Linked DNA regions of Homo sapiens. The protein of the gene in region 3 purifies or fractionates together with the protein of the main gene of each other region. This does not show direct contact. Each region holds a gene or a part of one and is shown on either strand. Other genes may lie near its edges. The genes, in order: DNPEP, TSEN15, MSMB, PLAT, CHST3, CSTA and SEMA6A.

Region 1 (3,185 bases), on a different chromosome or scaffold from region 3:
CTTGCTTTGTCTCCCAGGCTGGAGTGCAGTGGCATGATCATAGCTCACTGCACCCTCAAACTCCTGAGCTCAGAAGATCTTCCTGCCTCAGTCTCCCAAGTAGCTGGGACTACAGATGCATGCCACCATGCTGGCTAATTTTCTATTTTTAGTAAAAATGGGGTTCTTGCTATGTTGCCCAGGCTGGTCTTGAACTCCTGGCTTCAAGCAGTCCTCCCACCTTGGCCTCCCAAAGTGCTAGGATTACAGGCATGAGCCACCATTCCCAACCCCATTTCAGGAAATTGTTGTTTCAGTAAACTTGTACCTCATCTAATGCACAGATCACTTTCCGTTTTCCCCAGTTATCCTCAAAATATTTTTTTTACAGGTATTTGGCCCACCCTAGTATCCAACTCAGGACAATGCGTTATATTTGGCTGATATGTTGCTTAAATGTCTTCCAGTGTAGCACAGTTCCCCCCACCCCTTTTTAAATAGCATTGGCTTATTCAAGAAACTTCTGGATATGTCTCCTTGCTGCCCCATGGTGTCATTTAGCTTGTCTGTAAGCCCCGTATTTCCTATCAACTGGAATTTCTAAAGACTTGATGGATTCAAGTTAAACTTTTTTTTTTTTTTTTTTTTTTTTTTTTGACAGAGTGAGAGTTTCACTCTGTCGCCCAGGCTGGAGTCTAATGGCGTGATCTCGGCTCATTGCAACCTCCGCCTCCCTGGTTCAAGTGATCCTTCTGTCTCAGCCTCCAAAGTAGCTGGGATTACAAGTGTGCACCACGATGCCCAGCTAATTTTTGTATTTTTAGTAGAGACAGGGTTTCACCATATTGGCCAGACTGGTCTTGAACTCCTGACCTCAAGTGGTCCGCCCACCTCAGCCTCCCAAAGTGCTGGGATTACAGGTGTGAGCCACCGTGCCTAGCCTCAAGTTAAACATTTTGGGCTAGAAGACATGGCTGGTGTATTCATATGGCATCACACACATGATATCTGGGTGGGCCACCCTTAGCCTTGCAAAGATTGACCACTGGACCAGGAATGGCCTCTTATCCTTTCATTATATAGTGCTTTTCCCCTATTGACCTGACAGTGACCCATACAAGTGATGAGTTCCCTATTAACCAGATACCTAATGGTTTTAACACTTACAATAATCCTTGTCTAAATCAGTAATTTCATTAGAATTTACCGAAAAATGCCCGCTTCCCCTGAATTCTTTCAGTCTTCCATTCTTCTGTGAAGTGGAACTTCTTCCCTCCAATCAACTAGGGTTCTTTGGTTATCATGGAATATCATTCCTATTGATTGGAAAGCAGGATAAATGCTAATTCTTTCTGTTATCCACTTTTCAAGGTGAAATGTCGTCTCAAATAGTGACAAAGAAAGATTTTTCCTTTTCCTTTTTTTTTCTTTTTCTTTTTTTTTTTTTAGACAGGGTCTCGCTCTGTTGCCCAGGCTGGAGTGTAGTGTCGCAATCTCAGCTCACTGCAACCTCCTCCCCACAGGTGCAAGAGAGTCTCATACCTCAGCCACCTGAGTAGCTGGGATTACAGGCATGCACCACCATGCCCGGCTGTTTCTTGTATTTTTAATAGATACAGGGTTTCACCATGTTGGCCAGGCTGGTCTTGAACTCCTGGAATCATGTGATCTGCACACCTTGGCCTCCCAAAGTGCTGGGATTACAGGCGTGAGCCAGCACACCTGGCCTGCTTTTCCCTTTCTGACTATCTTAGAATCATGGAATTTCATTTATTCAGTGTCCTCTATAATTATTATATTTGATTTGTGAATTGCCATGGCTTTGACCAGTGGGAGCCCCTTCAGCATAACTCCTGTGCCCTTTGACTCTTGGAAGTCTCCTTGCTTTTTGGCACAACAAAAATTGTAGACATGTCTTGTTCATTTCGCCCCCCAGACTTGGTAGTTTTTGGCAAGCAGTGGTATTAGAGACCATAGCCTGGCACTGCAAGTGTTCATTGTTCTTGGGGGAGGGGACGGTGCTTTGGGTCCATTTCCATGGACATAGCAAGAAAAAAGTACATATTTTAAAAATCATGAAGCCAGGTGTGGTAGCTCAGGCCTGTAATCCCAGCACTTTGAGAGGTAGTGGATCACTTGAAGTCAGAAGTTCGAGAACAGCCTGGCCAATATGGCAAAATCTCGTCTCTACTGAAAATACAATAATTAGCTGAACGTGGTGGTGCGTGCCTGTAATCCCAGCTACTTGGGAGGCTGAGACAGGAGAATCGCTTGAACCCAGGAGGCAGAGGTTGCAGCGAGCTGAGATTGCGCCACTGCACTCCAGCCTGGGCATCGCAGGGAGACTCCATCTCAAAATAAATAAATAAAATAAAATAAAAATTTTTAAATAAAAATCATGAGTTAATACTGTAATTCTTATTCATAAAATTATTCTTATTTAGTTAAATAGTTACTACCTATTTGATTTTGTAATTCTGTTTTCTCTTACACTGAAAACCTTGATATCTAGCATCATATTTTCATTTTCTTATTTTTTTACCATAATATAAAGAAAATCATTTCAAAATGTCAGTAGCAATATTTTTAAAGACACTGATACCACTGAGTGATTTTTTTCTGTGAGTGTGGATATTAAGCAAGAGGGTGACAAGGATGGATACTTTTAAAAATCCCCCTTCCTGCTGTGTGGAGAATGGATTGGAACTAGGGTGGTGGCAATGCAGATAGAATGGGACCAATTCAGAATATATTGTCCTTTGGGGTCTGCCATTTAGCATTGGCTTTGATTTTATGCTCCGAATGGACCATCTCCCAGGCCCCTTCCCACCCTGCAATTCTAAGATGGCGTCCTCCTTGGCTCTGATAAGCACACACTGCATGTTGCTCATGGGTCTCCTGCTCTCCCTAGGATCTCATGGTCCGGAATGACACCCCCTGTGGAACCACCATTGGACCTATCTTGGCTTCTCGGCTGGGGCTGCGGGTGCTGGATTTAGGCAGCCCCCAACTGGCCATGCACTCTATCCGGGAGATGGCCTGCACCACAGGAGTCCTCCAGACCCTCACCCTCTTCAAGGTAACACCCACCCCAGACCCTCTCTGGCAGCTGGGCTGCTTCCCCTCTAGTGCCTGGATTGGTTGCTGGGACAACATCGCCATCACAAAGTGACTGGCCTGAGTAATGGGGGCTGGTTGTCATGCTG
Region 2 (3,500 bases), on a different chromosome or scaffold from region 3:
TCCAACTAATTCTACTTGAAGAAGAAAACAAGCTTTAGCCATTCAAGCTAGAAAAGCATTAATTACCACCTGGAAAATACTAGAAATTAACAATGGAAACAAATTTGTACTTCTAGACTTATGAAATGATTTTGATTAAAATAGGCTATTGCTTTCATTAATTTTATTTTTTAGGAATAAATGCAGGTTAATTTCAAATAGTAGCTCCTTGTCCAAACAAATAATATAACATTAATACTAGCTAGGACAATATTTGTTACAGTAATTAAAAGACAGAAGTAATGAGTTCTGAGGAATGAATTAAGACTCTTGGATATAGGATGGCTTGGAAATCATGCTAGTAAAAACCGGAAAGTACTAGCGATTAAATCTGATGTCAATGCTAACAACTATTTGTAATTCTCAAACACAGAGAAAACAGTAAGGAGCTTCTCAAAGAAGCATATGAATAGACTGACATATTAAAAAACAATTCTCATTATGAATAATAAATACAAAAAATACTTCATAGAAATCTGCAAATTTAGTTTAATATGGCTTTATGAAATATGCACAATGAAAATAACCAGTTACAGCAGCTTTAATTTAGAAGGGATCTTGCATGTACTGGTAATCTAAATCCCTCAACAACAAAATAAGACGAGGAAACTGAAACCCAGAGAAATTAGGTGTGTTGCTAAACATCAAACAAAATGTTAAGTGTCAGTCCCAAGACTAGAACCCAGGTCTTAAGACTTTATAGTCTGGGGCTCTTTCTACTAGACTGCTATGTATTCAGTCATAGTCAGCTAGAAAAAATGTTAAGTATTCATCAACGGTATTCATGCTGGAATTTAAGAGGCTCTGCTCTTTTCCCTACTTATATGCCACCCAAATAGAGCTGTGTTTTCATTTGTTCATTCTTCCCATACCCCACTCTCAGAGGTTTACAGCACCCCTTTACATGCTCAATATTACTCTCCTCCACTATCCTCTTGAATCCATCCTTCCTCATCTCTCAAGAATCTTGCTCCATCAATAATTGTCATCTCTTTTCTATTTTCAGACTTTCTGTAGGACAGCTCACGTGGCAGCTGGCTTCCTTTATAGTAAGCAAGAGAGAGTGCCCAAGATAGAAGCCACAGTCTTTTGTAACCTAATCTTAGAAGTTACATTCCTATCATTTTTGCCAAATTTTATTCATTAGAAAGAAGTCACTGAGTCCAGGTCACACTCAAGGGAAGAGAGTTACATAAGGGAGTGAATACCAGAATTAGGAGAAGCCATCTTAGAAGCTGCCTGCTACAGCTTCTAAAGAAGAAATGCATAAGGGAGGCTTGCTAACCAGATACCAAGACTTCTTACCAAGCAAGCGATTAAGAGATATGGTATTGGCAAAAGGACAGATAAACTGGCTAATGGAATATAATAGAGAACCCAGAAACAAATTAATGCATGTTTGGAACTTTGGAAAGTAGCAGAAGTGATATGTCAGATAGTGAGGAAAGGAGGGACTATTCAGTAAATGGAGGTAGAAAAAGTGGTTATCCACATGACAATGGTATCCCTAACCGCCTCTCACACCATTAAAAACAAGAACAATAGAACTCTTAGTGAAAATATAAGTATTTTTTAGACCGTTAGATAGAAAATATTTCTTAAACTAGACACAAAGACGTTGATTATAAAAGATGGATAAATATGATTATATTCAAATTAAGAACTGTTACTCATTGAAAGACATCTTAAGACAGTGAAAGACAGACTTAAAAACTGGAAAACACAATAAAAAAACTATTAGGTCAAGAATATATAAAGAATTCATACAAGTCAATGAGAAAACTAAAAACAACCCAACAGGCAAAAGATATGAACAGATATTTCTTATAAATAATACATATATAAAGAAATATTCAGTATTATGAGTAATAAGGGAAATGTAAATTAAGACCAAAATAAGAATAATCCATTCCATTGGCAAAAATTTAAAAGTCTGACAATACTAAATGTGAGAGACAATACAGCTCCAAAGGATCTTATTTACACTGCAGGTGAAAAGTAAATTGAGGCAACCACTTTGAAAATAGTTTGAAATTATCTCCTAAAGTTAAACATTAGCAACACTCCATCATCGAGGGAGTGGATGTAAAAATGGTGGTATAATCACACAATGGAATGTTATGTGGCAGCTCAAAAAATGCACAAGAATGGATGAATTTTAGTAATATAATATTAAGTGTATAAGGTCAGCCTTAAAAGATAAGATTTTTTAATTAAAGTTAAAAACATCTAAAATTTAAAAATTCCCAATGTACATGGAATTCAGAATGAGTTACCTCAGGTCAGTGAAAGCACGTTAAGGAAGGGACTTATAAGATTAGATGTTAGTTATTATCAAGAATCTAGTTTTGCTTTGGGTGATGGGTACAGAGATACTTATTACATTATTAAAAATAACTAAGTAAATAAATAAAAACCAAGCATGAACTAATAATGAGAGTATGTCATGAAACAAAGACATGTTTAATCCAATGCTGTGTACCTAAGCTTTTTAAAAAAAGGTCCTAAAAAAAGTCTCTTTTTTAAAGCTTTTAAAAAAAGCTACATGAAAATTTGATTTCAGCTTGCATGTTAATCATGCTTTTCACCAACTGCTATATAAAGTATAATTTGTATTACATGGTACATCTTATAACAGCTGTTATTTCATATGTAATGGTCTTGCTTCCTTACCAAGAATATAAATATTTCTACCATACATACTGTCTCTGAAAAAGTACTGACCATAGAGTAAGTGCTAAATAAATACTTGTTGAATGCTTGATATACTTTGTATATTTGTTCCTGCCCAAATCCCATGTTGAACTGTAATCCCCAATGTTGGAGGTGGGGCCTGGTGGGAGATGTTTGGGTTATAGGGGTAAATCCTTCATGGCTGAGTGCTGTCTTCAGGACAATGAGTTCTCGTGAGATCTGGTCATTTAAAAGTGTGTGGAACCTCCCCCTCAACACTCTCTCTCACTCCTGCTTTTGCCATATGATGTGCCTGCTCTTGCTTCACGAACTTCCTCCATGATTATAAGCTTCCTGAGGCCTCCCTAGAAGCCGAGTAGATGCCAGCACCATGCTTACTGTAAAGCCTTCAGAACTATGAGCCACTTAAACCTCTTCTTTTTTTTTTAAGAAATTACTCAGTCTCAGGTATTTCTTTATAGCAATGCAAGAATGGCCGAATACAACACTCATATTTAACTTATTCCTCAAATAGCCAAGAGTAAAGCTATGAACCCTGTATCCCAAATTTCATTAAAAGTATTACATCACTATGTTTAATGTTTCCTACTGCTTTACTCGGGAAAGGAACTTAGACCAAAATCACCTGCTCACCTGTTATGGCTGAGGGAAGCAGTGATGGGGGTAGGCACCACAGTCTGTAACCCCTCCCCTTCTATCTCAGTACCAACAAGGCAGATGAGCTGGAGTTCTGGTAATCCTACACAGTTTACTTCATGCCAGCTTTT
Region 3 (3,457 bases):
GGGATGCACAATGACCTATTATAGAGTTTAGGAAAAATAGAACTTTTATTCATATGTATTTTGTTTTGTTTTGTTTTGTTTGGGTTTGGGTTTGTTTGTTTGTTTGCTTGTTTTTTGAGACGGAGTCTCACTCTGTCACCCAGGCTGGAGTGCACTGATGTGATCTTGGCTCACTGCAACCTCCGCCTCCCGGGTTCAAGTGATTCTCCTGCCTCAGCCTCCCGAGTAGCTGGGACTACAGGTGCCTGCCACCACGCTAATTTTGTATTTCAGTGGAGACGGGGTTTCACTATGTTGGCCAGGCTGTTCTCGATCCCCTGACCTCAAATGATCCGCCTGCCTTGGCCTCCCAAAGTGCTGGGATTATAGGCATGAGCCACTGTGCCCGGCCATTCATATGTAGTTTTGTCTCCCTTTTTAAATGTTTTGTATTCTTTATAATGTGTATTAAATCAATGCATACATAAATTATAAATTAAAAGGACACACATATTCAAGTGTTTGCTCAAAAATCTTTTTACTGATAGGCATGGCTACACAATCATTGACTATTAGAGGCCAGAGGAGAATGAGGCCTGGCCTGGGAGCCCTGTGCCTACTAGAAGCACATTAGATTATCCATTCACTGACAGAACAGGTCTTTTTTGGGTCCTTCTTCTCCACCACGATATACTTGCAGTCCTCCTTCTTGAAGATTCTTTGGCAGTTGTCTTTGTCATAACCCACAGGTGTAGAAACACTGTCATTGAGACAAAACTGGGGCCTGTTAGAAGAGAAAGGACCCCGAGCACCCCCTCCCCAGTGCCAGCTCTGTTCAGGAAGTCACCCACACTCCAACTTAAGGGCACCCTTTGGCTGGCAGCCCCAGAGTGTGACCTCCAGGAACCTGGACCAGTCTGTACCATAGAGTCACACAGCTCACCCCTACATTCCATCCTGCAGGCACAGAAGGTCATCAGTAGGTGCTGACAGGCCCAGGGGCAAGTCTGGCTACTCTAGAAAGTGGCAGCTTGTTCCATGCTGGCTCCTCCCACCCTCCCTGTTCAGGAAGTGGCCAGCATATTGTTGCTAGAATGTGGAAAGGAAACAAATCCCAGCCCTGACTTGGAGGCCTGTTGGCAAAGGAGCTCTCTCAACCAACCAGAGCAATGAGTCACTCCAGGCCAGTGTCATGGAGCCCAGGGAGAAGCTGATGAAAGTCAGAGACCACCTCTAATTGAGCTGCAGTACATACAAATATTTTGAAGAGTTCTGATGAGATGAGATGATACTAATGCTAGAATATTTATGTATTATTACTATTATTACTTTAATTTTTTGAGATGAATTTCACTCTGTCACCCAGGATGGAGTGCAGTGGCACGATCTCAGCTCACTTCAGCCTCCGTCTCCCAGGTTTAAGCGATTCTCCTGCCTCAGCCTCTTGAGTAGCTGGGATTACAGGAGCACACCACTACACCCAGCTAATTTTTATATTTTTAGTAGAGATGGCGGGTCGGCGCGGGGGAGGTCTCACCATGTTGGCCAGGCAGGTCTCGAACTCCTGACCTCAAATGATCCACCCACCTTGTCCTCCCAAAGTGCTGGGATTACAGGCGTGAGACACCATGCCCAGCCCAGTGCTAGAATATTAAGTGGAAAAATCAGCCCACAAAACTGTGATATAAAATTTGATATCCACTATGTAAAAGAAAAAACATATAGAAAAGAGACATAAAGAAATGATGATAGGGCCGGGCGCTGTGTCTCACGCCTGTAATCCCAGCACCTTGGGAGGCCGAGGCGGGCGGATCACGAGGTCAGGAGATCGAGACCATCCTGGCTAAACCGGTGAAACCCCGTCTCCACTAAAAATACAAAAAATTAGCCGGGCGTGGTTGCAGGCGCCTGTAGTCCCAGCTACTCAGGAGGCTGAGACAGGAGAATGGCGTGAACCCAGGAGGCGGAGCTTGCAGTGAGCAGAGATCACACCACTGCACTCCATCCTGGGCGACAGAGCAAGATTCCATCTCAAAAAAAAAAAAAAGAAAATAAATGATGATAGAAGCCCAGGCATGGTGGCACATGCCTGTAATCCCAGCTACTTGGGGCTGAGGTGAGACAACAGCTTGATCCCAGGAGTTTGAGACCAGCTTGGGCAACATAGTGAGACCCTGTCTTAATTTTTTTAATACAAATAAATAAATAAATAAAAATAGAATGTTAATAGTTATTACCTTTACACAGTTGGGATTATGAGTAGGTATTTCTTCTTTTTTCTCTTATGCTTCCCAATGATTCTATAATTCATATGTTTACTTAGAAAATTGGGAAATATCATTTAAAACCTTTCATGTTTTTCATGTTTAAAGGTGATTGCTGGCTGGTAGGAATGTAAAATGGTGCAGCTGCTGTGGAAAACAGCTTGGCAGCTCCTCAATAAGTTAAACAAAAAATTACCATATGACCCAGAAAGCTACTCCTGGGTATATATCCCAAAAGAATTGAAAGCAGGGACTCAAACATTATATGCCAATGTTTGTATATTGACAAACACTGTATGCCAATGTTCAGAACAACATTACTTACTTTATCCAACAGGCAGAAGCAACTCAAGTGTTCAACAAATAAATGGATAAGCAAAATGTGGTATGACCATGCCATGGAATATTATTCTGGCAGAAACAAGAATGAAGTACTGATACATGCTACAACATGAATGAACCTTGACAACATGCTGAGTGAAATAAGCCAGACACGAAAAGACAAACACAGTGTGATTGTATTTATGTGAAATATCTAGAGTAGGCAAATTCATAGAGACAGAAAGTAGACTTGAGATTACCACAGGTTTGGGGGACAGGGAATCTGAGTTATTGTTTAATGGATATAGAGTTTCAGATTGGAGTCATTAAAAAGATTTGGAAATAGTGTTTATGGTTGCATAGTACTGTGAATGTACTTAATGCCGCTGAATTGTATGTTTTAAAATGGTTACACTGGCACATTTTATGTAGTATACATTTTACCACAATAAAAAAAAAAGGTTAAAAATAAAGTGGTGTTTGTTGAAGAGATACAATTCTTTTAGTTCATGGTAGGAAGTGAAATGGTGAATCTGTGCTGCCTGTGTGCAAATACAAGTTGGTAAGGCAAAAGGCATATTACTGCATGCTTATTTCAATGCAAACCAGACTTAGCTCTATAGAGGAAACAGCAGAGAGAGAGAGGGAGGGAGAAACTGTCAACATCGGGTATTCAGCTAACCAGAGTCAGTGGCTGGATGACCTTGGCCTTTTGTCTCCCACTCCCTTTTCCTCACCCAAGTCAGGGAGCCAGCCCTGGGCCCGGGCAGCGTGGAGCCCAGGACATCTCCCATGCCCTACCTGGGAGCCTCTGCCTGGGCCCCCAGCCTCAGGCTCCACTGCCACCGAGCACCTTGAGATCTGGGCAGCGTCCCATAGAGGGTGCAGTGGGT
Region 4 (3,500 bases), on a different chromosome or scaffold from region 3:
CTATGTATCTATCATCTATTTATCTATCAATCATCTATCAATCTATCATCTATCTATCACCTATCATCTGTCTATCTGTCATCCATCTACCGTCTATTTATCATCTATCTATCATGTATGTATCATCTATTTATCTAATCTATCACCTATCATCTATCATCTATCAATCTATCATCTATCACCTATCATCTATTATCTGTCTATCATCTATCCATCTATCCATCCTGTATTGGTTATGTTTCTTGGGAGAACCCTGACGGATCTGACAGAATCTTTCCCCAGCTGTAGCAGCTTCTCACAGGGGGAATCCCTCCTTGGGGATGTGCCCTCACCTGCAGTAGTTGTGGTTCCCCAGGCCCAGCCTGATGGCGTCTGGCCTCCGCCCGCTGTAGGGCTTCTGGGCCAACGCGCTGCTGTTCCAGTTGGTGCACTCGGCGCCACTCTCCGCTGTGCTCCACGTGCCCCTGTAGCTGATGCCCTGGTCCTCGTAGCACGTGGCCCTGGTATCTGACAGAGAGCAGGGCATGGATGCCTCACATGGGAGTCCCCTTTCATTCAGCCCTCAGGAGGCTCCCCTCTCTGCCCCGTCCTCCCCCAGGCCTGATGCAGGCTGGCTCGGAAGCCACAGGCTGGGTGGCAAGGGTGCCAGCCTGGATTCAGGGTCACACCTAGGCTCTGCTTGCTGTGTGGCACTGTGCTTCCTGACCCATGGCAGAAGCGCCTTCCCTGTCCCTGGCCCCCACCCCTGGCCCTGCCATCGCACCCTGCCTTTCCTTCCGGGGGCGGGGGAGACTGGAGAGGTGGGATTTCAGCTCGTTTCACGTGCTCTCACCTACTCACCTATTTCACAGCACTTCCCAGCAAATCCTTCGGGGCACTGGCACACGAAATCTGAGAAGTACAGGGCCTGCTGGCAGGTGCCCCCGTTGAAACACCTTGGCTCGCTGCAACCTGTCAAGTATAAAAAAGGAAGCCCCTAATGACAGCCTCCTTCTGTGTGCTCAGGCCATGGTTCCAGGAGCCCTGTCTACCACAATCCACACACACTCAAGTCCTGCAGCGTGGAACACGCGTATACCAGTTCTGCATCCTACAAATACTGTTTTCATCCTGCCTTTGGTTGAAAAAAATCCATACATAAGTGGACCCTGCAGGTCAGACAAGTGTTGTTCAAGGGTCCCCTGTATTTTCAAAGCAGCTCCAAGGATGATGTGAGTTAAAATATTAAGAATGTGCTCTATGTGCCAGGCGCTGTTGTACAGTCTACAAAAATTAGCTAATTTAATCCTCACAGCAAACCATGAAGTGTGTACTGTTATTCCCACCTCTTTATAGATGAGGAAACTGAGGCAAGCGGGCATTTGCCCAAGGTCACTTGGTCTTGCTCCCTTTTCTGCTTGTACCTTCACCTCCGCCTAAGGCCGAACAGGCCTGGAGGCTCCTTTTGAAGATTTGAACTTTCCGGGGACCATGAAAGACAGGGTTCATGACTGGACCCCTGAACTCGAAGTCTCAGTTTGAAGTCGATTTGTACTGGGCTTTTCTGTGTTTTTGTTTTTGTTTGTGTTGTTTTGTTTTGTTTTAGAGGTGAGGGCTTGCCCTGTCACTGAGGTTGAAATGCAGTGGCACAATCGTAGATTACTGCAGCCTCCAACTCCTGGGCTCAAGTGATCCTTCTGCCTCAACCTCCCAAGTAGTTGGGACTACATACCAGGTCTGGCTAATTTTTTTATTTTTTGTAGAGACAGGGGACTTGCTATGTTTGCCCAGATTGGTCTTGAACTCCCGGGCTCCAGCGACCCTCCCACCTTGGCCTCCTAAAGTGCTGGGATCACAGGCATGCACCACCTCCCAGCCTCAGTACATACTTTTGACAGGCACTGAGTGGCACTGTGCCCTGCCACTGTTGCACCAGCAATATTCCACCCGGTTGCTTCTGAGCACAGGGCGCAGCCATGACTGATGTTGCTGGTATATCATCTGCGTTTTTTCATCTCTGCAGATCACTATGAGAAAAGACAGGCCAGCCTCATCAGAGTATGACTCAAAATGAAATGCCTCACTACCCTTGCACCTACTGAGAAAACTCCCTCACTTGCTTTCTATAGACTCCATTGCATACTCCCTTATTGAAGAGACACAACTGGAAGACAACAAGATAATGAATACTGGCCAAACACGGTGACTGATGCTGGTAATCCCAGCACTTTGGGTGGCCGAGGTGGGTGAATCACTTGAGCTCAGGAGTTCGAGACCAGCCTGGCCAACATGGTGAAACCCTATCTCTACTAAAAATACAAAAATGAGCCAGGCATGGTGGCAGGTGCCTGTAATCCCAGCTACTCAGGAGGCTGAGGCAGGAGTATTGCTTGAACCCAGGAAGTGGGGGTTGCAGTGAGCCGAGATTGTACCACTGCACTCCAGCCTGGGCGACAGAGCAAGACTCCATCTCAAAATAAAATAAAATAAATTTGCATTTCTTTTCTGAGTGCCATTGAGTATCTTCTCATATGATTTATTTATTTATTATTTATTTATTATTATTATTTTTGAAACAAAGTCTCACTCTGTCGCCCAGGCTGGAGTGAAGTGGCACAATCTCGGCTCACTGCAACCTCCACCTCCTGGGTTCAAGTGATTCTCCTGCCTCAGCCTCCCGAGTAGCTGGGATTACAGGTGCCCGATACCATGCCCGGCTAATTTTTGTATTTTTGGTAGGGACGGGGTTTCACCATATTGGACAGGCTGGTCTCGAACTCCTGATCTCAAGTGATCCACCCACCTCGGTCTCCCAAAGTGCTGGGGTTACAGGCATGAGCCACCGTGCCCAGCCTAATTTTTTCTTTTCTTTTCTTTTTCTTTTTTTTTTTCGAGGGTCTCTGTCACCCAGGCTGGAGTCCAATGGTGCTGTCTTGGCTCACTGCAACCTCTGCCTCCCAGGCTCAAGCAGTCCTCCTGCGTCAACCTCCCAAGTAGCTGGGACTACAGGTGCACACCACCACACCCAGCTAATTTTTAAATTTTTTTGTAGAGGCGGGGTGGGGTGGGGGAGGCAGAGGTGTCTCACTATGTTGCCCATGCTGGTCTTGAACTCCTGGGCTAAAGCCATCCTCCTGGATCCGCCTCCTAAAGTGCTGGAGTTACAGATGTGAGCCATTGCACCTGGACTTTTTCTCATTGTAATTCACCAAAAAATATATATATGCATAACTGTCTACCAGAGTTTTTTATCCACATAAGTATTACCACACAGAAATGATGCATTTTTGGCCCCAAAGAAAATTGACATTTTAGACTTTGCAGAAAATGTGCTACTTCTCCAAGTATTTTTGGCATAATGAAAATAGTTGAAGTACTCCCATTAATATTTTCATGCCATCTTTCTGTTTTCAAGCCAGAATGCCAACTTAAAAAACAACAACTTTACTTTCAATTAATTAAAGAAGTAGCACGTGCCCACTGTAAGTCAGACCCTTGCTGCTTCTGAGGTCACTGAGGCC
Region 5 (3,500 bases), about 26 Mb from region 3:
CCTACAAAGTAAATGAATCTATGAGGGTTTGCTCACAGGTAGGCCCCGTCTTGGAGAGACATAACGGGAAAATTAGCTTTGGTCTATCCACCCTAAAGCAATGTTTAAGAAGCAAAGCTTCTCAGATGCCACAAAATGGAGAAAAGTCTCATCATTCTGCACCATCAAAGTTAAACTCACCAACCAACCAAGACGTCACCGTCTGCCTGCTGGGGAGGGTCCAGGCTTGGGACTGACTCAGAGGGAGCAGGGCTGAGCTGGGACCCCCGGCCGTCTTCTCTCCCATATACATGTTCCTCCTGTGCCCAGCCACCAGCGTCCCTGCAGCACAAGGACTGGCCAGCGGAGGGTGTGTTCCCTGACTTTTGAGGCTCTTAAAGTTAAGGAGGAGGGACTGGGCGGGGAGGGGGCAGGTGTAACCACAGAGGCCAAATAAGAACATCCCGGGCTGGCCTCCGAGGTGGTTGTTTACTTGCGGCATTCAGGAGAGGCTGAACTGGGAACTGGCTTGTTTATTTTCCACACTTTTTCTCCAAATCCTTTTCATAGAGTCCTCTGAAACCTCAGTGATAAATTTCCTAGGGCCCAGGGAAGCCACAGTCCCTCAGCACACAGCCATCTTTGTGAGGAGGTGGTGGGGGGTGAGGGGGATCAAGAGGACGGAGGGCAGCTGGAGACAAGAAGTCACTGGTGGTCAGGGGCTCCCGGGGCCCACCCTGCCCTCCAAGCTGGTGGCGGCCCAGCAGCCACAGGCCAGATTTGGGGCAATAGAGACAGAGGGCTGAAGCGTGTCCACCGGCAAGCACAGAACAAACCGTCCAGGCCTGCCAGGGGCCACCCCACACCCCGCTGTGGAGTCCACGCGCTCAGGGTAGGACCAGCAGCATTCTGTCATCTCTTTAGGCCTTAGAGAAGAAAAGGTGGCAAATATCATTTCTGTTTAACGAATGAAAAGGAGAAGTGTCTCCTCTCCTGAGGCATAACCTCACGAAAGCCAGAGACTCTCTGAGTGTTCCTTCGCAGCAAAGACCCTCTCTGTGCCGCCACTCTAGGAGTTCCCAGCAGAAGCATTCACGGCCCCTCCTGGGGCTTCACCCAGCATCTGACTACATTTCCAAGAACTTCCCATGCCTCAGGCACTGGGATGGAACCAGGGGTACAAAGATGGACAGCCCCGGCCCCTGCAGTGGGGTGGCTTCTCCCCACACCCAGTCCCCCAACTTCCGTCCTGGTCACTGTGTCCCCTCTGCAGTGGAGGGGGAGAGGGCTCCAGTTTCTTTGCAGCTCAGCACTAGGAAGGCTCTAAGAACTCACCCAGGTGGGCTTCCTGTGGAAGGTGGGCAGGGATCAGCTGGGCAGTGCTCATCCAATGCTCTTTGCGTCCTTTGAAGGGCGCCAGCCTTTCCCGTTCTATGGACATCTGTACTGGGGGCTCTCAGGGCAGAGATGAGGGTGGGTGGAGCAGTGAGGACCCTGCCCCAGCAGGGATAACCACTCTCAGCCCTTGGGGCCGGGGATAGAAAATACCACCCCGACTGAAAACGTGGCTGTCCCAGGCCTTTGCAGATGCCTGGCTTCGTGACCTTGGGCATCCACTGCACCTCTCTGAGCCTCATGTCCTCATCTGTAAAGTGGGGCCAACAGATAATTGCTGTCTCCCTGTGGGGCGTGGATGTAAAAGCAAGAGCTGGGGACCAGATGAGCGTGTGGTTATCACCTCCCCTGGCTGCTCCGGCTCTGCCCCATTCTTCTCTCCTGTGGACCAGGTGCTGCTGAGGAGTCCAGCTCTCCAGAACACGTGGCAGGGGTGGGAAGGACAGCTGTGACATGGCCCCTTATGTTCACCAGGTAAATGACAATAGGAGGTGTCAGGTGAAGGCTGATTTCCCCAGGTAATAGATTACCCTGGAGAGGACCAAAAAGGGGAAAAAAATACAGTAACCCATTTGAGGATGTTTGGTCTACCTGGCAATTTCTTCCCTATTCACGGTATGGTCACAAGAGGCAGCTTTGTCCCAACTTCTCAGATAAGCAGTGAGTCATGTCTCACTGGAATTACTGCAACATCTCCCTGTGTGCCCCCCCAAAATCTCCACAGTTTTCTGACTCCAGAGCCACACAGAAGGCTCCAGCAGCCTGGTACCACCCAGCCTTTGATTCCCACAGCCTAAGGTATATCCAGGCTCGGCAGAGTGTATGGAAAAAGAAGAATGCAAGCAGAGGCCCTGGGACCACGTTAGTAAGAAGCATCAGGGCTGTTTCCCTGTTGCCATGGAGAACCAATAAGGGCCTTGCAGACAGCCTGGCATGGTGGAGACAGGGTGGGTTCTGGAGTTAGACAATCTGGGTTCAAATACTGGCTTTGCAATTGCAGCAAAAACAAAAATTGACAAATGGGACCTAATTAAACTAAAGAGCCTCTGCACAGCAAAAGAAACTATCAACAGAGTAAACAGACAACCTACAGAACAGGAGAAAATATTTGCAAACTATGCATCCGACAAAAGTCTAATATCCAGAATCTATAAGGAACTTGAACAAGTTAACAAGCAAAAAACAACCCCATTAAAAAGTGGGCAAAGGACACAAACAGATACTTTTCAAAAGAAGACATACATGTGTCCAACAAACATATGAAAAAACGGTCAACATCACTAATCATTAGAAAAATGCAAATCAAAACCACAATGAGATACCATCTCATACCAGTCAGAATAGCTATTATTAAAAAGTCAAACATTAACAGATGCTGGCCAGGTTGTGGAGAAAAGGGAGTGCTGGCCAAGCGAGGCGGCTCATGCCTGTAATCCCAGCATTTTGCGGGGCTGAGGTGAGCAGATCACGAGGTCAGGAGATCGAGACCATTCTGGCCAACATGGTGAAACCTCGTCTCTACTAAAATACAAAAAAAAAAAAAAATTAGCCACGCATGGTGGTGCACGCCTATCAGGGGGCTGAGGCAGGGGAATTGCTTGAACCTGGGAGGTGGAAGTTGCAGTGAGCCAAGATCGCACCACTGTACTCCAGCCTGGTGACAGAGCAAGACTCCATCCCACCACTCCCACCAAAAACAAAAAACAAAAAACAGAGTGCTTATACACTGCTGATGGGTATGTAAATTAGTTCAGCCATTGTGGAAAGCAGTTTGGAGAGTTCTCAAAGAACTCAAAGTAGGATTACCATTCTACCAAGCAATCCCATTATTGGGTACATACCCAAAATAATATAAATTGTTCTACCATAAAGATACATGCACACGTATGTTTATCATAGCACTAGTCACAATAGCAAAAACATGAAATCAACCTAAATGCCCATCAACGGTAGACCAGATAAAGAAATGTGGTACATATATACCATGAAATACTATGTAGCCATAAAAGAGAATGAGATCATGTCCTTTGCAGCAACATGGATGGAGTTAGCGGCTATTATCCTAAGCAAACTAACACAGGAACAGAAAATCAAGTGCCCCATGCTCTCACTTAGAAGTGGGAGCT
Region 6 (3,500 bases), on a different chromosome or scaffold from region 3:
ATTATGTGCAAAGATAGGAAACATTCCATCAACATTAACATATTTAATAATTTATGATTAATTCAAATGCATAAATTTCACATATTACCAGCTCACATGTTTCTTCAACAGTTCATCAGATAACTATCTTGAAAATTTCTGCTTGAAAATTTGTTCCCTTGACCACCCTTTTGCCCTCTCTTAATCAGTCTCCTCTCTCTCTCTCATCTTTTCTTCCTTCTGCTATCAAACTTTTCCTACTGGATCTCAGCCACCGATCCCAGTTCCCTTTTACTTCCTGGTAGTCTGGCTGTTGATCCCTTTGCTCTGAGGCACTCTAGATTTAAGGTCTTGCCAGTGATGTGACCTTCTCTATGTATTTCAAGTACCTATCAAGAGGTAGGTGGTAGAATGGAAGGACCACAAGCTTAGGTGTCAGAGTGTCCTGGGTTTGAACCCTTGTTCAATTTGTTCTATGGGAAGCTCCTCCTCCTCTCTGAGCCTTCATTCCCTTATCTGCACAATGAGGGTAATAATCTACTTCGCAGCGTGTTGTGAGGAATAAATAAGCTGGAAATTTATTGAGCACTTATAATTCACTATGCACTATTCTAAGAACAGGGCTTATCTCATTTAATCCTCACAACAAATCTATGAGATAAGTACAATCACTTCTCTTGGGTTACCAACGAAAAAACTGAGTTCCAGGGTGGTGAAGAAACTAAAAAGATCACACAACTACAAGAGCAGAGTCAGGATTTGAACCCAGATAGACTGAGCTTAACTACTGGCTGTGCTGCCTCTAATATAAAGCACAAAATAAGAGCTTTTACAAGGTTACACTGGCCTGGTGTGGTGGCTTATACCTGTAATCCGAACACTTTGGGAGGCCAAGGTGGGAGGATAGCTTGAAGCCAGGAGTTTGAGATCATTCTGGGCAACATAGCAAGACCCTGCCTCTACAAAGAAAATGTTTTAATTACCTAGGCATGGTGATGCACACCAGTAGTCCTAGCTACTTGGGAAGCTGAGGTAGGAGGATCACTTGAGCCGAGGAGTTTGAGGTTGCAGTGAGCTGCGATCGCACCACTGCACTGTGAGCCAGGCCTCATTCCCCGATCAGTACCCCCCAAAAATGTTACATTGTAGAGTGAAAAGAATGTAGATGCTAGAGGCTAACAGATCTGGGTTTGAATATTGGCTGTGCCACTGACTAGCTGAGAGATTTATGGAAAATCACTTAATCTCTCCTACTCTGCTTCCACGTCTGTAAAAATTTCATTGCTCCACTTTTCTTCAGGCCTATAATATAGGTTAATATAATCATTTATATAAAATGTTCATCATAGTGTCTGGCTCACAGTAAACATTTGATATATGGCATTTGTTAAAATTAGGATAGGAAGTGACATCAGAAGCACAATAAATATTTGTATAAGACAAAGCATTTATTGTCTCCAGCAAGAACCAAAGTAAAAATTCTTACCATAATTTTCCAGGTCTCAGATTCATGTCCAAACTACTGCTTCTGCTTCAACCTTCCTACCAATGACTTCCTAGTAAAACCCCTTAGCTTTTTTTTTTCTTTTCTTTTTTGAGACGGAGTTTCACTCTGTCACTCAGGCTGGAGTGCAGTGGCACAATCTCGGCTCTCTGCGACCTCCACCTCCCGGATTCAAGCGATTCTCCTGCTTCAGCCTCCCAAGTAGCTGGGATTACAGATGTGCACCACCACACCCAGCTAATTTTGTATTTTTAGTAGAGACCAGATTTCACCATGTTGGCCAGGTTTGTCTCAAACTCCTGACCTCAGGTGATCCACCCACCTTGGCCTCCCAAAGTGCTGGGATTATAGGCGTGAGCCACAGTGCCCGGCTGGCCCCTTCACTTTAGAAGGGAGGGTGTCCGCCCCCTGGGCTCTGCTCAATCCTACCAGTGGGTGTTTATAAAGTAGGTTCTGATATAGGTATGGGAACCCTGCATCCCAAATTTTCTAGGGCAATTCTGATTTTCTTCTCCCTTATCAGACTGTATGGCAAACAAAGTGTCCCAAGTTGAGAGTCAGAAAACAGTATCACCAAAAATATAGGCTATCACTTGTTTTCTTGCTCCATGCATCTTTGAAAATAAAATGCTGTCCTTTGTGCCCAGATTATACTAAAAAAAATAACAAAATAAACCTAGGACCTATGCCTCTTGCCATGCCATTAGTCTACAATTTTTTTTTTTTTTTAAGACAAACTCTTGCTCTATCACCCAGGCTGGAGTACAGTGGCATGATCTCGGCTCACTGCAACCTTCTCCTCCTGGGTTCAAGTGATTCTCCTGCCTCAGCCTCTAGAGTAGCTGGGATTACAGGCATGCACCACCATGCCCGGCTAATTTTTTGTATTTTTAGTAGAGACGGGATTTCACCATGCTGGCCAGGCTTGTCTTGAACTCCTGACCTCGTGATCCCCCTGCCTCAGCCTCCCAAAGTGCTAGGATTACAGGTGGGAGCCACGGCACCCAGCCTAGTCTGCTCTTTTTCTCCTAAAATAAGGTGGTGGATTTATGAATACAAAGAGTCTAAGAATGGTGGACTAGGTCTAGCAATGCTGTTCCTCAGCAGCTTTTTGGACAGAAGTCTTTGTAGACCTGTGGCTCTCTCACTTGATGTAGACCCATTTGAATGAATCTCCTTTTGCTTTCTCTTTCTTTAATATTTTTCAGGTACGAGCAGGTGATAATAAATATATGCACTTGAAAGTATTCAAAAGTCTTCCCGGACAAAATGAGGACTTGGTACTTACTGGATACCAGGTTGACAAAAACAAGGATGACGAGCTGACGGGCTTTTAGCAGCATGTACCCAAAGTGTTCTGATTCCTTCAACTGGCTACTGAGTCATGATCCTTGCTGATAAATATAACCATCAATAAAGAAGCATTCTTTTCCAAAGAAATTATTTCTTCAATTATTTCTCATTTATTGTATTAAGCAGAAATTACCTTTTCTTTCTCAAAATCAGTGTTATTGCTTTAGAGTATAAACTCCATATAAATTGATGGCAATTGGAAATCTTATAAAAACTAGTCAAGCCTAATGCAACTGGCTAAAGGATAGTACCACCCTCACCCCCACCATAGGCAGGCTGGATCGTGGACTATCAATTCACCAGCCTCCTTGTTCCCTGTGGCTGCTGATAACCCAACATTCCATCTCTACCCTCATACTTCAAAATTAAATCAAGTATTTTACAAAGTGTGTGTGTGTGTGTGTGTGTGTATATATATACTTTTTTTTTTTTTTTTTTTTTGAGACAGAGTCTCGTTCTGTCACCCAGGCTAGAGTGCAATGGTGTGATCTCGGCTCACTGCAACCTCCACCTCCCAGGTTTAAGCGATTCTCCCATCTCAGCCTCCCAAGTAGCTGGGATTACAGGCACCTACCACTGCGCCTAGCTAATTTTTGTATTTTTAGTAGAGACAGGGTTTTGCCATGTTGGCCAGGCTGGTTTCGAACTCCTGACCCTAGGTGAT
Region 7 (3,500 bases), on a different chromosome or scaffold from region 3:
GCCACAGAGAAGTTAAGTGACTTGTCCAAGGTAGTGAGAGTCTGGAACTCAGGTCTTCTTGTCTCCAAGTGCAGGATCCTCAACAGCAGATATACTGTACGGGTACAGGGCAGAAACATGGGTTAATAAAGTATGCTGTATTCTCCTGATAGAAAGTTGAATTTTAAAACTACTATTAGCAAACTCCAAAAAAACATGAACGTTCTATGGCCAGTGGTTAGAATGCAGAACAAATGAGGCCAGGGTCAAAAGCTCAATCCCCACAAATGCTGGCTGTCTTCTTAGCTCTGTTTCTTGGCAAGTTGATTTTACCTAACTCAGACTCCCTCCAGCTACAACCAGGTGTCTCACAGATGTGTGCTCTTGGACACAGGAGGGGACTGGGTGAGAATGTGGGAATGAACAGGCTCCAATCCATCACTACCACTGGAAAAACAACACAGTGAATGTTCCACTAATGATGCATGAGCCATACCACCTATGTGCTTGGAAGATTGTACACACACACACACACACACACACACATTCATGCATGAAGTACACACACACACATGCATGCATGAAGTATCTCATTTGATAAAAACATGATATAGAAAAACAAAGGCAGACAAAATAGATAAAATAAAGACTAGTTGTTTGCAAAAATGATTCACTGTTTATTCATTCAGCAAACACTTGTTATGGATGGCCCATGATGTGCCAGGCACAGCTTTAGGTGCCAGAGTGAATAAAGCCTAAAAATGTCTATCCTTATGGCATTATGTTCTAGTGGAAGACAGAAAATCAACAAGGACAACATATAGTTTGTCAGACTGTGAAAAATGCTAAGAAAAAAATAAGGACTGCCAAGAGGTGGGGAGTGCTGTGGGAAAGAGTAAAGTAAATAAGGGGATCAAAAGGCTTCACTGAGAAAGTGACATTTGAACAGAGACCTGAAGAATATGAGAAGCAAATCATGTAGCTATCTGGGGAAAGAACCATCCCAAGGCATGAAAGAGTAAGTCCTTGCAAAGGACCCCAAGTATATGCCATGCTTGACAGATTCAAGCAAGCCCAAGGGGTGGAGGTCAGAGAGGTTGGAACCTGAGTGCAGATCATGTGGGGCTGCAAAGGCCATAGGAAGGACTTTGGCTTTTATTGGAAGAAGATGGGAAAACATCTGAGCAAAGTAGTGATCTGATCTGGTTTAGTTTAAAAAAAAAATCACTGCTGTGTTTTGGCTGCTGTGTTGAGAAATGGGCAGAGGCAGGAATGCTAGTGGGGAAGCTGGCATGAAAACCTAGCAGGAGAGGACCATGGCTTGGCCAATTTGAGGGCCACAGAGGAGGAACACCTGAAGGAAGCCTGCAGGTATTCCAAAGGTGGAGCCAACAGCATTGCAGCCACAATGGATGTAGGTGTGACAGAGAAGCTTCAAGGAGAACTAAATTTGGGGGCCGGCAACTCAAAGAATGGAGTTGCCATTTACTATGATGGAGAAGACTATGAGAAAGGCAGATATGGGGGAGAAAGATACAGAATTAGGTTTTTTAAACCTAAGTTTGAGATGTCTATTCAGGAGGAGCTACCTACCCACTAAGCATTGGTTATTTGTGAGGTCCAGGAGAGAGGTCTAAGCTGAAGAGGTTATTTGGGAATCATCTGTGTATTATGGTTTTATATGATACCCTCTATTGGTGTAAATGGAATTATTGTAATAAAGTTTTGCAAGAGCTCATCTGTTTCACAAAGCAAGATACCCTTGTGTATAGACTATATGCAGTAGTCCCATGGTGAGAAGTTGTCCTGAACTCCTCCCCTTGAGGTTTGTGTGGTATGACATCTCATTTGCCCATTTCGAAGGGATTAAATGCCTCCCTCCTTTCTCTATCTTACCATATCCCCAAGAGGCAACCATGTGGTCGCCAGCAGAGAATAGCTCAGTTGCTCTTGCAGCACATTTTAAAGCAGATGAGAAAAGCCTTCACGCTGAAATAGAAATATCTCAGAGAAAACTTGGCTCCAAGGCACCCCAAGAGAGTGGGGGGGGTTCCTGATATGGGAGGGCCCAGCAGAACGCCTCAAGGCATCACCTTCCTCAACATGCACAAATGTGGCTGCCATAACACAAAGCTTCTATATAAATATGTCAAGGAGCACTCCTCTACTCTAGGAGGACAGAAAATTGTCTAAACCTAAAGAAGGGTGTGGAGAGGGGCAGTGCAGAGATAGGCTTTCCTAGGCATTGCCTTACACAAATGGCAGATGCTTAATTAAAGCATTTGCAATTAGCTTAGCTTGTTCTGTGATTCCTTCCTGCAAACAAATAAGATGGAGAGACTATATTAGCTCTTGGCAATCTAGTTCTAAAAAAACTTTCATCCCATCATCACTCTTTTGTCCTGTTCTGAAAAGCGCTGAACCACAATGTACACAGAATAAACTATCTGACTTAACTCCTGGTTCAAAATAGTATTTTTCCTTCCATTTCATATAGGAGTGCAACTACCCATTTACTTTTAAAGCATAACTACTTATTTTGAATTTAATACAAGTTCTTAATTTGGATGCCTCATTTTTATTTGGTGAAGATAACAGTCTTCCTAATTCTTGCTACACTTCTGATTCAACACATTAGACTTCACTAGTGCAATGTTACCCGCCTACTCAAAATACAACTGCTATATGTGTTTAATGTTGGAAAAAGCATTTACTAGATTTTGGAAGAACTTGAGGGGTGTGTGTTGTGTGTAAATAAAAAGGTGCACTTATTGCCGCCTTATCATAACCACTCACTTGAAGGCATATATTTTTTTTTTCACTGTAGGGAAAATAAAGAAGTCCACTTTAAGTGGACAAACATGAACCATGTGTGACTATTTATTTCATTCATTCGACATTTACTTGAGTGTTCTATACTGGTTCTTATAAAATTTTTACCTATTTAAGCTTAGTTGTTATGTCCAATAAGTATATTCAGCTGATGGCTCCTCAGAAATGATTTTCGGTATCTGCTTAACATTTACATATGTGGATTATATGCGTTATTGAAAATGTAGCACATCTCTAAAAGGTGATAGCTGCAAAACCTAACATATGGGGAAGGTTGTCACCCACAAACACTGTACATCAGAAACATAAAGTAGAATGCTTCTTTACATCAAGTTGAAAAATGACTCATAACCAAAAGTAAGATTTTAAATTTGATGTTCGTTCTTTTCTGCTTTAAACTGGTTTGCAAAGTGCCTCATTCAAGAACGTCCCAAAACCAAAATAATAACAGGGAGTAAGGGTTACTCAAGATTCAAATAAAAGTTACCATACAAACAAGCATGGGTAAACCAAATTCAAATAGCTAGTGCAATTATTTTTTAATAGATAGTTTAGGTTAATAGGTGGAGACATAGTTCTGCCACTGTATTTAAGGTTAGGTTAATAATTAACTTTGGTGCCTGGAGTAGTTTAATCAAAGCTTACTGTAAATCATAAAACTGCTCCATGTAGACTAAACACAGCATTAA

The links.
Region 1: the proteins of MSMB (region 3) and DNPEP purify together in Homo sapiens (affinity purification with mass spectrometry; one large-scale study listed by BioGRID and IntAct). This does not show direct contact.
Region 2: the proteins of MSMB (region 3) and TSEN15 purify together in Homo sapiens (affinity purification with mass spectrometry; one large-scale study listed by BioGRID and IntAct). This does not show direct contact.
Region 4: the proteins of MSMB (region 3) and PLAT purify together in Homo sapiens (affinity purification with mass spectrometry; one large-scale study listed by BioGRID and IntAct). This does not show direct contact.
Region 5: the proteins of MSMB (region 3) and CHST3 purify together in Homo sapiens (affinity purification with mass spectrometry; one large-scale study listed by BioGRID and IntAct). This does not show direct contact.
Region 6: the proteins of MSMB (region 3) and CSTA purify together in Homo sapiens (affinity purification with mass spectrometry, with the first as the bait; one large-scale study listed by BioGRID). This does not show direct contact.
Region 7: the proteins of MSMB (region 3) and SEMA6A purify together in Homo sapiens (affinity purification with mass spectrometry; one large-scale study listed by BioGRID and IntAct). This does not show direct contact.

The regions. Positions count from the first base shown.
Region 1 is NC_000002.12:219,374,728-219,377,912, reverse strand, and holds part of DNPEP (aspartyl aminopeptidase), read left to right. Parts: intron 1-2,890; coding exon 2,891-3,058; intron 3,059-3,185.
Region 2 is NC_000001.11:184,054,730-184,058,229, reverse strand, and holds part of TSEN15 (tRNA-splicing endonuclease subunit Sen15), read right to left. Parts: coding exon 3,367-3,500; intron 70-3,366; exon of another isoform or gene 1-69. UniProt on the Homo sapiens protein: Non-catalytic subunit of the tRNA-splicing endonuclease complex, a complex responsible for identification and cleavage of the splice sites in pre-tRNA. It cleaves pre-tRNA at the 5' and 3' splice sites to release the intron.
Region 3 is NC_000010.11:46,032,813-46,036,269, forward strand, and holds the end of MSMB (beta-microseminoprotein isoform a precursor), read right to left. Parts: intron 3,038-3,457; exon of another isoform or gene 2,581-3,037; intron 740-2,580; coding exon 610-739; 3' UTR 501-609; downstream 1-500.
Region 4 is NC_000008.11:42,187,066-42,190,565, forward strand, and holds part of PLAT (tissue-type plasminogen activator isoform 1 preproprotein), read right to left. Parts: intron 2,007-3,500; coding exon 1,869-2,006; intron 952-1,868; coding exon 841-951; intron 508-840; coding exon 333-507; intron 1-332. UniProt on the Homo sapiens protein: Converts the abundant, but inactive, zymogen plasminogen to plasmin by hydrolyzing a single Arg-Val bond in plasminogen.
Region 5 is NC_000010.11:71,967,395-71,970,894, reverse strand, and holds part of CHST3 (carbohydrate sulfotransferase 3), read right to left. Parts: intron 342-3,500; exon of another isoform or gene 181-341; intron 1-180. UniProt on the Homo sapiens protein: Sulfotransferase that utilizes 3'-phospho-5'-adenylyl sulfate (PAPS) as sulfonate donor to catalyze the transfer of sulfate to position 6 of the N-acetylgalactosamine (GalNAc) residue of chondroitin.
Region 6 is NC_000003.12:122,338,748-122,342,247, forward strand, and holds the end of CSTA (cystatin-A), read left to right. Parts: intron 1-2,691; coding exon 2,692-2,820; 3' UTR 2,821-3,222; downstream 3,223-3,500. UniProt on the Homo sapiens protein: This is an intracellular thiol proteinase inhibitor. Has an important role in desmosome-mediated cell-cell adhesion in the lower levels of the epidermis.
Region 7 is NC_000005.10:116,568,324-116,571,823, forward strand, and holds part of SEMA6A (semaphorin-6A isoform 2 precursor), read right to left. Parts: intron 1-3,500. UniProt on the Homo sapiens protein: Cell surface receptor for PLXNA2 that plays an important role in cell-cell signaling. Required for normal granule cell migration in the developing cerebellum.